Regions from separate parts of the Homo sapiens genome. Here region 1 is linked to region 2. The links come from fine-mapping of genetic effects on gene expression. A gene starts in region 2. The other region holds a variant in brackets. All regions are shown on one strand. Distances are from middle to middle. Region 1 overlaps BIN1 (bridging integrator 1). Region 2 holds the start of BIN1 (bridging integrator 1).

Region 1 (5,000 bases), 33 kb after region 2:
GTCCTAAGCTCCATTTTTGGCCTATTGTCGAGCCCTGGGTAGAGGGTGGGGAGGCCTGAAAACCTGATGGACCCAGCCATGCCCTGGGATTGCAGCCCTGGGTGGGCACCCTGGGCTGGGTGATGTTGGCTAGAGACTTCCCAGCCCCTGGTCTGTGCTGTTGGTGACTGAGCACTCTTGGTTTGACCACTCTCCTTTCCAAGGTAACACTCTCCCCTTCTCTCTTGGCTTCGGCAGGTTCTCCAGAAGCTGGGGAAGGCAGATGAGACCAAGGATGAGCAGTTTGAGCAGTGCGTCCAGAATTTCAACAAGCAGCTGGTGAGTGTGGGTGGCCCTTGGCCTTAGGGAGTTTGTGAAAATTCGGCTGCCAGGTGAAAAATGGCACGAGCTGAATTTGTGGAGTACGAGAGCTTGGAGGAGGGTAATCAGTGTGGGCTGACAAGATCATGTAAGACTTCCTAGAGGAGGGAGCACTGGCAATGCATGCTGGGAAGGAAGAGGGATGGGGTATGTATGCTTTAGGTTCTTGGTAGGAGACATAGAAACGGTAGTTGGGGGAGGGGGAGGGGGAGGGTGGGATAGGAGCAGGCAATAGATTGTGGCCAGACTTGGGGAAACTTTGCATGTCAGGGGCAAGTGGGAGCTATAGAAGCTTCTTGCCAGGAGAGTGGCATCTGCAGCGGTTAGCATGGGGGCGGAGCAGGCTGGGTTTGATTTGGGCATCTGCTGAGCATGGTGTGTGCCTGGCTGTGTGGCAGGCTCAAGGCTGGGCTGTGGGGAGGCATCCGCAGCCATCTCCAATTGGCCTGGGAGCATTTGAGAGAGGGCTGAGGGCAGCTGGGAGGGCTGGGGAGCAGCTGGGAGGGCCTGGGAGTAGCTGGGAGAGGACTGGGAGCAGCTGCGAGGGCCGGGAGTAGCTGGGAGAGGGCCGGGAGCATTTGGGAGAGGGCTGGGGAGCAGCTGGGAGAGCTGGGAGCATTCTGGGACAGGACCAGGAGCAACTGGGAGGGCTGGGAGCATTCTGGGAGAGGGCGGTTGGGGGCAGCTGGGAGGGCTGGGAGCATTCTGGGAGAGGGCCAGGGAACAACTGGGAGCATTCTGGGAGAGGGCCGGGGAGCATTCTGGGAGAGGGCGGTGGGGGGGGCAGCTGGGAGGGCCGGGAGCATTCTGGGAGAGGGTGGTGGGGGGCAGCTGGGAGGGCTGGGAGCATTCTGGGAGAGGGCCGGGGAGCATTCTGGGAGAGGGCTGGGAGCAGCTGGGAGGGCTGGGAGCATTCTGGGAGAGGGCTGGGAGCAGAGGGGAGAGGCCCCAGGGCCAAGTTGGCCTTGGCTTGCCAGAGGGGCTCAGCCTGACAGGCTTCCCTGGACAGGGATTGGGGAGCCCCCTTAGCTGATTGTCCTTTAGGCCAGTTATGGGAGGAGTTTCAAGGCCCAGGTAGACCCTGTGGCAGGGATATCTACTGCCTCTGTGGCTCTGGGCAATTCCTTCCCAGAGCTTCTTGGGCCTCAGTTTCCTCACCTGCAGAATAGAGGCTTGAACAAGAAACCTGGTCTTAGGTTCTGATTCCATCTCTGGGAAGCCCCAGGGCATGTCCCTACTCAGCTGGCTTCATCAGGCTGTGGGTTGCTCTGAAGGACCTTTAGGGAGTTGCTGTGGCCATGGGCCAGAGCTGCTGTGTTTGACAGAGATCTATGCAATCCTTGAGATGGGGCTGATATTCTCATTTTGCAGATGAGGCACTTGAGGCTCAGAGAAGTTAAGCACATCTTCCAAGGCTATGTAGCTGGTGTGGGTGTTGGGGATTGAAATCCAGGCTCTGTGGCCTTTGGTTCACTATCGAGTTTCCTCTCTGGAGCTGATCCCTTGTCCTGAGGGCAGCTGGCTAGGCTGGGGAGACAGGTTAGGGGTGGAGGTGGTGGGGGCCCCTTAGAACAGGCTGAGCTGGCCGGGCACTGTAGCTCACGCCTGTAATCCCAGCACTTTGGGGGGCCAAGGCAGGCAGATCATGAGGTCAGGAGTTTGAGACCAGCCTGGCCAATATGGTGAAACCCCGCCTCTACTAAAAATACAAAAATTAGCCAGGCGTGGTGGTGTGTGCCTGTAGTCCTAGCTACTCGGGAGGCTGGGGCAGAAGAATCTCTTGAACCTGGGAGGCAGAGGTTGCGGTGGGCCGAGATCATGCCACTGGACTCCAGCCTGGGCTACAGAGCAAGACTCCGGTCTCAAAACAAACAAACAAACAAAAAACAGGCTGAGCTTTGGCAGAGTGAGGGAAGCACAGTTGGGAGCTGAGACTCTGTGTGGCCTGGCCCCAGGGCTGAAACCACAGTGTTGCTGTCTCCACTGTCCCTCAGAGTCATCCTCTCTGGGTCTCTGACTCTGGGCAAACAGTCACTCACTGCTCCTTGGACAGAGGGGTTGGGCAGAGAGTCCAGGGCTAAAGATAGCCAGTGCTGCGGGCTGCCAGGTGGCTGCTGGGCTGTGGGTGTGGAGCAGTCCTGAGCTGGGCCTCTGTCTGCCCCCGGGCTCAGGTTTGGTGGGGTGGCTGGCTTTTCAGGGGCCAGGGCTGGTAGTTGGGGTGGTGGTTTTAAGGTCTTGTTCAAGGCTGGGGCTAAGGCAGCCAGTTCTGGATTTGATTGGTGTGTGGGGATGGCAGGGTGTGGGGACCAGGAAGGAATGGGGTGAAGGTCACTGTTGTTGGGGGAGTGAATTCAGGAGGCTGCAGTGGGCTTGGGGGCCCTGGGAAAGGAGAGAGAGAATGGGGCGTGGGAAGCCTGGAGGTGGAGCTTTTTCTTGCCTCTGATTCTGTGAGCCCCAAGCCTAGTGGGCCCAGCACTACAAGGGACAAGGATGGCAGGTGATTTAGTCTTTAAAGAAG[T/C]GAACCTCCCACCCCTTCTTATGGGGTGGGGGGCCCTAGGAGAGGGTGTAGATCAGCCTGCTGTCACCTGCTCTCCAAGGACCCAGGTGCACAGCCCCTCCTGGGCCCACCTGGCGCTGGTCACAGTAGCATCGCTGCCTTCTGCCCCTGCTCTGAGAGCCCATGGGGGCCTGCTTGCCCCTCCCCCAGAGTACTGCACACCTGGCACAGGCCCTTCTGGAAGCCATCCTGGGTCTCCAGGGCATCCCAGCTCTTCTTCCTAGGGTCCGTCTGTAGCTTTCCAGGCTGCAGGGCTGTCATTGCTGTTTGTCTGTCACTGAGGTGGGGCAAGTCTGATTCCTTCTTGTCCCCATGGCCCACCCAAGGTTTTGCTCAAAATGGGCATCCCTGACTATTGAGTGAAGGTCGCCCCCCGAATTGATGGCTGAGGGGTGCCAGAGGGGGTCCACGTAGGAGGGCCGTCCCTGCCCCCTAGACCCACTGGGAGCACAGGGACTTGGGTGCTCAGGCCACCTGTGGGGACTGATGTCCAGGGAGGTGCAGCGAGGGCTTGGGGATGCTGGCTGAGCCCAGCCGCGCTGGAGCTGCTCCAGGACCTTCCTGACTCCCCCAAGTCCTGTAGCTGGGACACAGGCTGAGGTGGGCAGTGGCTCCCGAATCTTATCTTCCCCCAGCTGGGCTCTGTGAACTCTGGGACCTCCAGAGAATTCTTTCTCAGATCCCTGTTTAGGGGCTGAGGGAGCCACTTGGAAGCAAACACACACTGCTCTGTACTGGCCTGGACGCTGCCCTGCGGAGGGTAGCTGGCTGGGGCCTCCGTCGGGGGAGGGCTGTGTCTACCCTGGGGACTGATGAGGAGCTTAGGAAGCCAGCTGCAGTGGGCACAGGGAGGCAGTGCTCTGGCCGGCCCCTTGCACATCTGCGTGCCACGTGCCGGCGCACAGCCCAGCGTTGTTTGGGAAACACAAGGAGCCCTGGTACGGCCTGAAGCCCGGGGGAGCACAACGACCCACCCCATGGGGACCCCTGCTGTGGGGGGGAGGTGGGGACGGCGTGAGAGGTGTGGCTGGGATGGTGGAGGCCTGGCAGGGAGAGAAGCTGGATCTGGAAGATTCTGTGACATCAGAGGACACGATAGCATCCCATCATGAACACACTTTAATCCTCGTCTCGACCAACAAAGCCTTTAATTGTGAAGACTTAGGGTGGCTGTGTCAGGAGTGAGGTGGACCCTTCCTCATTCCCCGGCCCCGCGGGGTCTCCATCCGACCCCCTGATGGAATTCCAGGGAGGTCTCAGTGTCCGTGGAGCAGTCTTCTGTTTCTTCACTCAGTCTCACATCGGTGGGCCTTGGACTTGGATGTTTGTAAAGATGATGATTAGCCAGTGTTATACACCCTACTCTATGGGGGATTAAAGGAATTTTAGAGATTTTTTTTTTTTTCACACATGCTCTCTTTAAATTATACATCTTATGTGCTGCTCTGAAGCTCCCCCTGTGGATGTCTCTACTGTCACACGGAAGCATTCATCATAATAGGCAGATCTGTGGGTTCTCAGGGCCGCATCACTACCCATTACCCACAAAACACCCTGCGGGCTGCGTGCCCAGGCTTGGAGGGTCTCATGGGCTCTCCGAGTCTCTGTGTGACTGGGCCGGTCGCTGACCCTCTGTCCGCTTCTTTGCTGTCAGGTGGGACAGTGGTGTTGAGAAGACTGCCTGGAAGGTGCTGGCCCCTAGGGCACCAGGGCAGGAAGAGCAGCCCCGGCTAAGGACAGGGAGAGGCCTGTAGTGGGGAGACAGAAGAGGGTTTCAGGGTGCTGGGGGTGAGCCTGTGGATGTGGCCGGGTCCCTGCTGGCCTTCACCTGGAGGTGGACCTGAATGGATGGGGCCCACCTTCCGGCTCTTGCGCAAGCATGAAGCTGGCCAGACTGGAGCGCTGCAGGCATGCTGGGTCTCCTGGGACCATGGCCAGCTGCCCCTCCTTCAGGGCAGGAGGCGACTGGAACATGGGTGTCCCTGAGGCTTGGGCTGGCAGCAGGCAGGGGAGGCCAGGAGGGTGCCCTTCTACTACGAAGGTCAGCCTCAGCCACTGCCGCTCTCCCGAGTCCCCTCTCTGC
Region 2 (5,460 bases):
AACACATCTGCTTCCTTTATGCATTGTTCTTTCAAGACATTGATCATGAGCTTTTAATTTATTTTAATTTATTTTTATATGGTTGCAAGTACAATTTCCTATCTTTTCCTTTCCTTCATAATTATGCCCTAAGCATTATTTTCTTGTTGCTACGTAGTCTCGGTAATGGTTGTTTTAAATGATTCCCAATGGCCCCTCCTGTGGCTGTGCTGTCACAGCTGACCCCATCCCTCTAATGAACACTTCCGTTGCTTCCAATTTTTCTGTCAAGCGATATTTAGAAACACCAGAGTCCAGTGAAGCAGAATCTCCCACTGTTCCCTGGGGGCTGACTGTAATGCAATTTGACTTTGCTCATTTCCTCCTTTCCTCAGAGGAGTGTTGGAAGAAATCACTTTTAGAGAATGGTTAGAAAAACGACCAACAGAAAATGAGGAGGAAGGAGATCATGAGCTGAAAGCATGTTGAGCTTTTAGGAGGAAGCTGCTTTAGAAGCCCAGACTGTGTAGGTTTTGCTTTTGTGACTCACAAATCGGGCATGAGTTTATAATAATTTTGACAGATGCTTTTCACTCATGCAGCGCTTGGTGCTTTTGAGGGCATTGGTGCAGGAAGGCTTGATGCAGAATCTCTGCTTATCATTTGCTGTCTGTGTGACCTACATCAGCGGCGCCTCAGTCTGTCTTCCTGCAGAATAAGAATACAGTCAGCCCTCTGCATCTGTGGGTTGGGCATCCATGGATCCAACCAACTGTGGACTGAAAATATTTGGAAAAATACAATAAAAAGTAAGACTACAACAATAAAATAATATAAATAAAAAACAAGGCCGGGCACGGTGGCTCACACCTATAATCCCAGCACTTTGGGAGGCCAAGGCGGGAGGATCACGAGGTCAGGAGATGGAGACCATCTTGGCCAACATGGTGAAACTCCGTCTCTACTAAAAATACAAAAATTAGCTGGGCATGGTGGCACGTGCCTGTAGTCCCAGCTGCTCGGGGGGCTGAGGCAGGAGAATCACTTGAACCCGGGAGGCAGAGGTTGCAGTGAGCCCAGATTGCGCCACTGCACCCCAGACTGGCGACAGAGTGAGACTCTGTCTAAAAATAAATAAATAAATAAATAAAAAATACAGCGTTAACAACTATTTACATAGTATTTAAATTGTATTAGCTATTACAAGAATCTAGAGATAATTTAAAGTATTTTGGAGGATTTGTGTACGCTATATGCAGATACTGTGTCAATTCATATGAGGGACTTGAGCATCCCTGGATTTTGGTATCCACGGATGTGCTGGAACCAGTCCCCTGGGGGATACCGAGGGACATCATGATAATAGGCCCGGAAGAGGACAGACGAACACACTGGGCCATGGGGCAGCACTGAGCGGTGGTGGAAGAACCCCGAGTAGCCGGAGAAAGAGCAGGAGGGCCTTCCAGGGAAGAGGGAATGGCCTGTGTGAACCCAGGCTGAACCTCTCATTCCTGGGACTCGATTTCTCCATTTGTACAAACTGCTTGGTTTGTGGTCTGCAAGAGCCCTTCCTGTTCCTCCAGGAAGCCTCTCAGGGACCTCTGTCCCTGGCCAGCTCTGCTCCTCTGACCGCTGCGGGTCCTGCAGGCCATAGCCCTGGCTCCTGTGTGTGCACCAGACACGTCTAGGCCTCTTCAGCGGGACCTATCTCTCTGCTCAACTCAATCAACAGTTCTTTAGAAATTTCCAGGGGCAGCAAAGTGCTGTAGCCCCTGACATGTTTTAGGGCTGAATGGGGGTGGGTATCAGCAGACTCAATACGTATTTATTAACTTAAAAGAAGTGTCATTGGTCTATTGGCAAAGCTGGTTAGCAATAACCTTATCTTCTCCAGGAATAATGATCACTAATCATTCCTTCCTGCTGGGGGTAGGAGACAACCCGGCGTATGGTGGTGGAGCACCTGGGAGACAGAGGCAGAGATCTCGTTCCTCGATCCCGGCGCGTTGGTTGTAAAGTAGGAACAGTAATAGCACCTACCTCTAGGGCCACGGAGACCGAATGAAATAATGCCTGTCAAGTCACTTAGTACACAGTAAGCACTCAGTAATGCTAGGTTGTTGTTATTATAATAAATTTTTAGCGAACGGGAAGACCAAGCACCGGTTGGTACTGGGCTAGGCGCCGTAGGCAAAGATGTGGAGATGTCCCGGAGGCGCCTAGGGTATCCGGGCGAAAACCCGAGGGCCGAAGGCTGGGAGGAGGCGGAGCGTCGGGCACCGGGCACCGGGCACCGGGCGGGAGGTGAGCCCCTGGAAAAGGAGGGGGCTCCGGGCGCGTTCTCCCAGCAGCCGCGGCTCCTCTGTTCAGGGCCGCGCCCCCTTCGCCGCACTTTCTCTTTGATTTCGAAAGCACTCCTCTCCTCCACCTAGTCTCCTTTCCTGGGTTGCAGGAGATTACTGCTTGCGGGGAAGACCAAGACGCCAGGCCGGCGGATTAGTCCCCGCCCCGGGGCGGTGCAGCTGGAGCGTCAGGGGAGTCCCGCTCGCCGCAGCCCCAGCGCCGCGCGCGCCCCTCCCTCCTCGCGGACCTGGCGGTGCCGGCGCCCGGAGTGGCCCTTTAAAAGGCAGCTTATTGTCCGGAGGGGGCGGGCGGGGGGCGCCGACCGCGGCCTGAGGCCCGGCCCCTCCCCTCTCCCTCCCTCTGTCCCCGCGTCGCTCGCTGGCTAGCTCGCTGGCTCGCTCGCCCGTCCGGCGCACGCTCCGCCTCCGTCAGTTGGCTCCGCTGTCGGGTGCGCGGCGTGGAGCGGCAGCCGGTCTGGACGCGCGGCCGGGGCTGGGGGCTGGGAGCGCGGCGCGCAAGATCTCCCCGCGCGAGAGCGGCCCCTGCCACCGGGCGAGGCCTGCGCCGCGATGGCAGAGATGGGCAGTAAAGGGGTGACGGCGGGAAAGATCGCCAGCAACGTGCAGAAGAAGCTCACCCGCGCGCAGGAGAAGGTGAGCGAGCCGGAGCCCCAGCAGCCGCGGAGTCCCAGCCGCCGCGGAGCCCCGGCCACCTGTCCCCCTATCCTCCGACCCCGGGGCCTGGTCCTTCGCCAGGATCTGGTGCTGTCACCTCTAGAGGAGCGCTTTCGAGGGGCTTCGAGGTCCCCAGGCTGCGTTCCCCGGCGCTCTGGGTGCCCTCTTAGGTTTGCGTCCTCTGTCTCCCCACACCCGGCCGGGGCAGGACAGGGCCCCGCTTTGCACCTTCGTGGCTCGGCTGCACAGCAGTGGCCGGCCCTGCTCCAGGCTCTTCTCAGGCGCGCGCTCCAGGCTACCCCGCTTTGGAGGCCAAGGGCCGGGAGGCTGGGAGGCCAGGTGGTGACCCTCAGCTCTCCAGGCCCATGCAGGCAACCTAGGCTGGGCCGGCGCTCGGGGCGAGAGGGAGTATGTCCCTCTGCCCCTGGGGACACTATTCCCCCGGACTCCCAAGGCTGCTTCTCGAACCGGCACCCACAGTTCCTTCCTTCCCACTGCTTCTCCACTTTCGTTCTCCGTGGGCCGAAGGAGGGATTGGGTTTCCTTTCCCGAGAGGTGCCTGCGGCCTGGAAGCTCCCGCCCAGCCCGGCCCCACCGGGAGCCCAGGGCTACGCACCCCGCAAGGAGGTGCCCTCGCCCCAGCAGGGGCTTAGCGTTTCCGGCGGCCGGGGAGCGGGTGGCGGCACTGGCTTTGGGAGCCCACGGCCGGGTGGGGAGCTGGCCTGGAGGAGGCGCGTGGAAGGCGCCACAGGAAACCCGACCCCTCCTCGCGGAGAGCTGGAATGGGGGATGGAGCCGGGGCCTCCCAGGGTGCCCAGAGCGTGCAGGAAATGCAGAGATTGAGGGGCGGGGGTCTGCACCCGGTCAGTTGTCTATCCCAAGCCACCTCTGGTTTATTGAATTGGATCACGCCAGCTGCTGACGCCACTTCCCCTGACGACTCCAACTCTGAAATCTGAGATTGCAGAATCTGTGTTTCTGCCAGGGTGGCCCCCCAGTGCCCCGCGGCCAGGCCTGCCCCCTCTCCCACCCGCTGCGCGGCCGCCGGGTGGAGGCGCAGGGACAGGCCGGCCTTCCCCTGCCAGGCCTGGTGGCTGTTTATAAACAATGACTTTTGCTTCTGAGACCCGCGGGCTCCCTAAGGATGCAACCACGTGATTGCTGGGGGATGGGGGAGAGGGGGGCGCCTAGAGCTTCCCCATACCTCCCTCAGAGTCCTACTGCTCATCCCTGTGTTTCCTGGCTAAGGAGGTGGGTGGGTGTGCATTGAAGGAAGGGCCCTCAGCCAAGTCCAGGTTTGCCCAGACCCAGCTCCCCAACCCCCCACCCCAGGGAAGGAGGAGGAGGAGGAGGAGGAGGAGGAGGAGGAGGGATTAAAGCCCCAGGAATAGCTGGCTGGGGGCTGGGAAGACTTCAGGTTGTGGGGTGGGGGGGTGGCAGCACAGATGCAGCCACCCCTGCTCCGGGCTGCCATGACTGGGTAATCCATCTGTGTGCCTGGAGCAGGCAGCCCTGGGCCAGAGCCTGCTTCCTTCCCTAAAGGGCCAGGGAGATGAATGGGAAGGGAGGTTAGCTGAGCTGTGTTCCCTGCCCCCTTCCCACTGGTGTCCCACCCCTTCCTGGCTCCCCAAGGCTCTTGGTGTGTCTCCTTTGCCCTGGTTGTCTTTTCTCTGCAGCAGCATCTTTGATGTCATTCTCGGGGCAGTAGGCAAGGGCTGTGTCCCCTCCAAGGAGGTGGTGATGTATCACTGAGCTCCTGAGACACCATCCCTCTCTCTTGAGCCCCTGTTCTGTGGCCACGGGCAGTTGGCTGACAGTTGGTCAGCTAGGCATGCTGGTCTTGGCCAACAGCTGACCTTGCCCATGCCGGGCTTCCTGGGACTGGAGTTGTTTAGTGTTCCAGCTGCTCTCTGCCTGCCGGAGACTAGTTAGGGACCCTCCCCCCATCAGAAACCAAGGCAGCATGACCATCATGACAGGCATCCAGGCCAGGTCTCTGAAAGTAGCCTTCCCCTCCCTTTGGGTTGCAGGCCCTGCTCGCAGGAAGCCCCATGCCTCAACCCACAGCAGCCTCTGCTGTGTGCCTTCCTGTAGAGTCTGTGCCATCATTGGAGGGTCATCCTCAGTGTCTTCTGTTGGTGATCAGTGCCGCCTCTAACTCCCACTGTCAATGAAACTGGAATCCTAGTCTCTTACAGGCAGCCCCACCACTATACCTACCTTGCCTTGGTGAAATCAGTGGGTAATAGGGCAATTCCAGTTTCCCTGTGGCTACAGGAAGGCGTTTCCTGAGCAAGGATGGCAGGAGCTGTGCTGGGAGGCTGGGAGAGTCCTGGCGTCCTGGCGTAGGAAGAAGGGCCCGTATCTTGCATCCACCCTTCACCCCCGGCCTTCCCACATCCACTTCCAGCCCAAACAAACATCCAGACTGTGAGGGTGACAGTGTGGTCAAGGGCAGCCTGCA

Evidence for each region. PIP is the estimated chance that this variant, and not a neighbour inherited with it, causes the effect.
Region 1: its variant is fine-mapped to the expression of BIN1 in Th2 cells (Schmiedel 2018, PIP 0.95).

The regions. Positions count from the first base shown.
Region 1 is chr2:127,071,944-127,076,943 of GRCh38, reverse strand. It overlaps BIN1 (bridging integrator 1), which reads left to right. Exons shown (of 19, transcript NM_139343.3): 2 at 238-318. Among named protein-coding and RNA genes, the nearest start is that of BIN1, 33 kb to the left of the region's middle. The variant T/C (reference allele first, on the strand shown) is at 2,879.
Region 2 is chr2:127,104,375-127,109,834 of GRCh38, reverse strand. BIN1 (bridging integrator 1) reads left to right here and starts at 2,681. Exons shown (of 19, transcript NM_139343.3): 1 at 2,681-2,975. The coding sequence starts at 2,892. LOC105373605 (a long non-coding RNA gene) reads right to left here and starts at 2,690. Exons shown (of 4, transcript XR_923311.4): 1 at 2,020-2,690. RefSeq lists silencers at 2,554-2,613, 2,448-2,742, 2,624-2,833.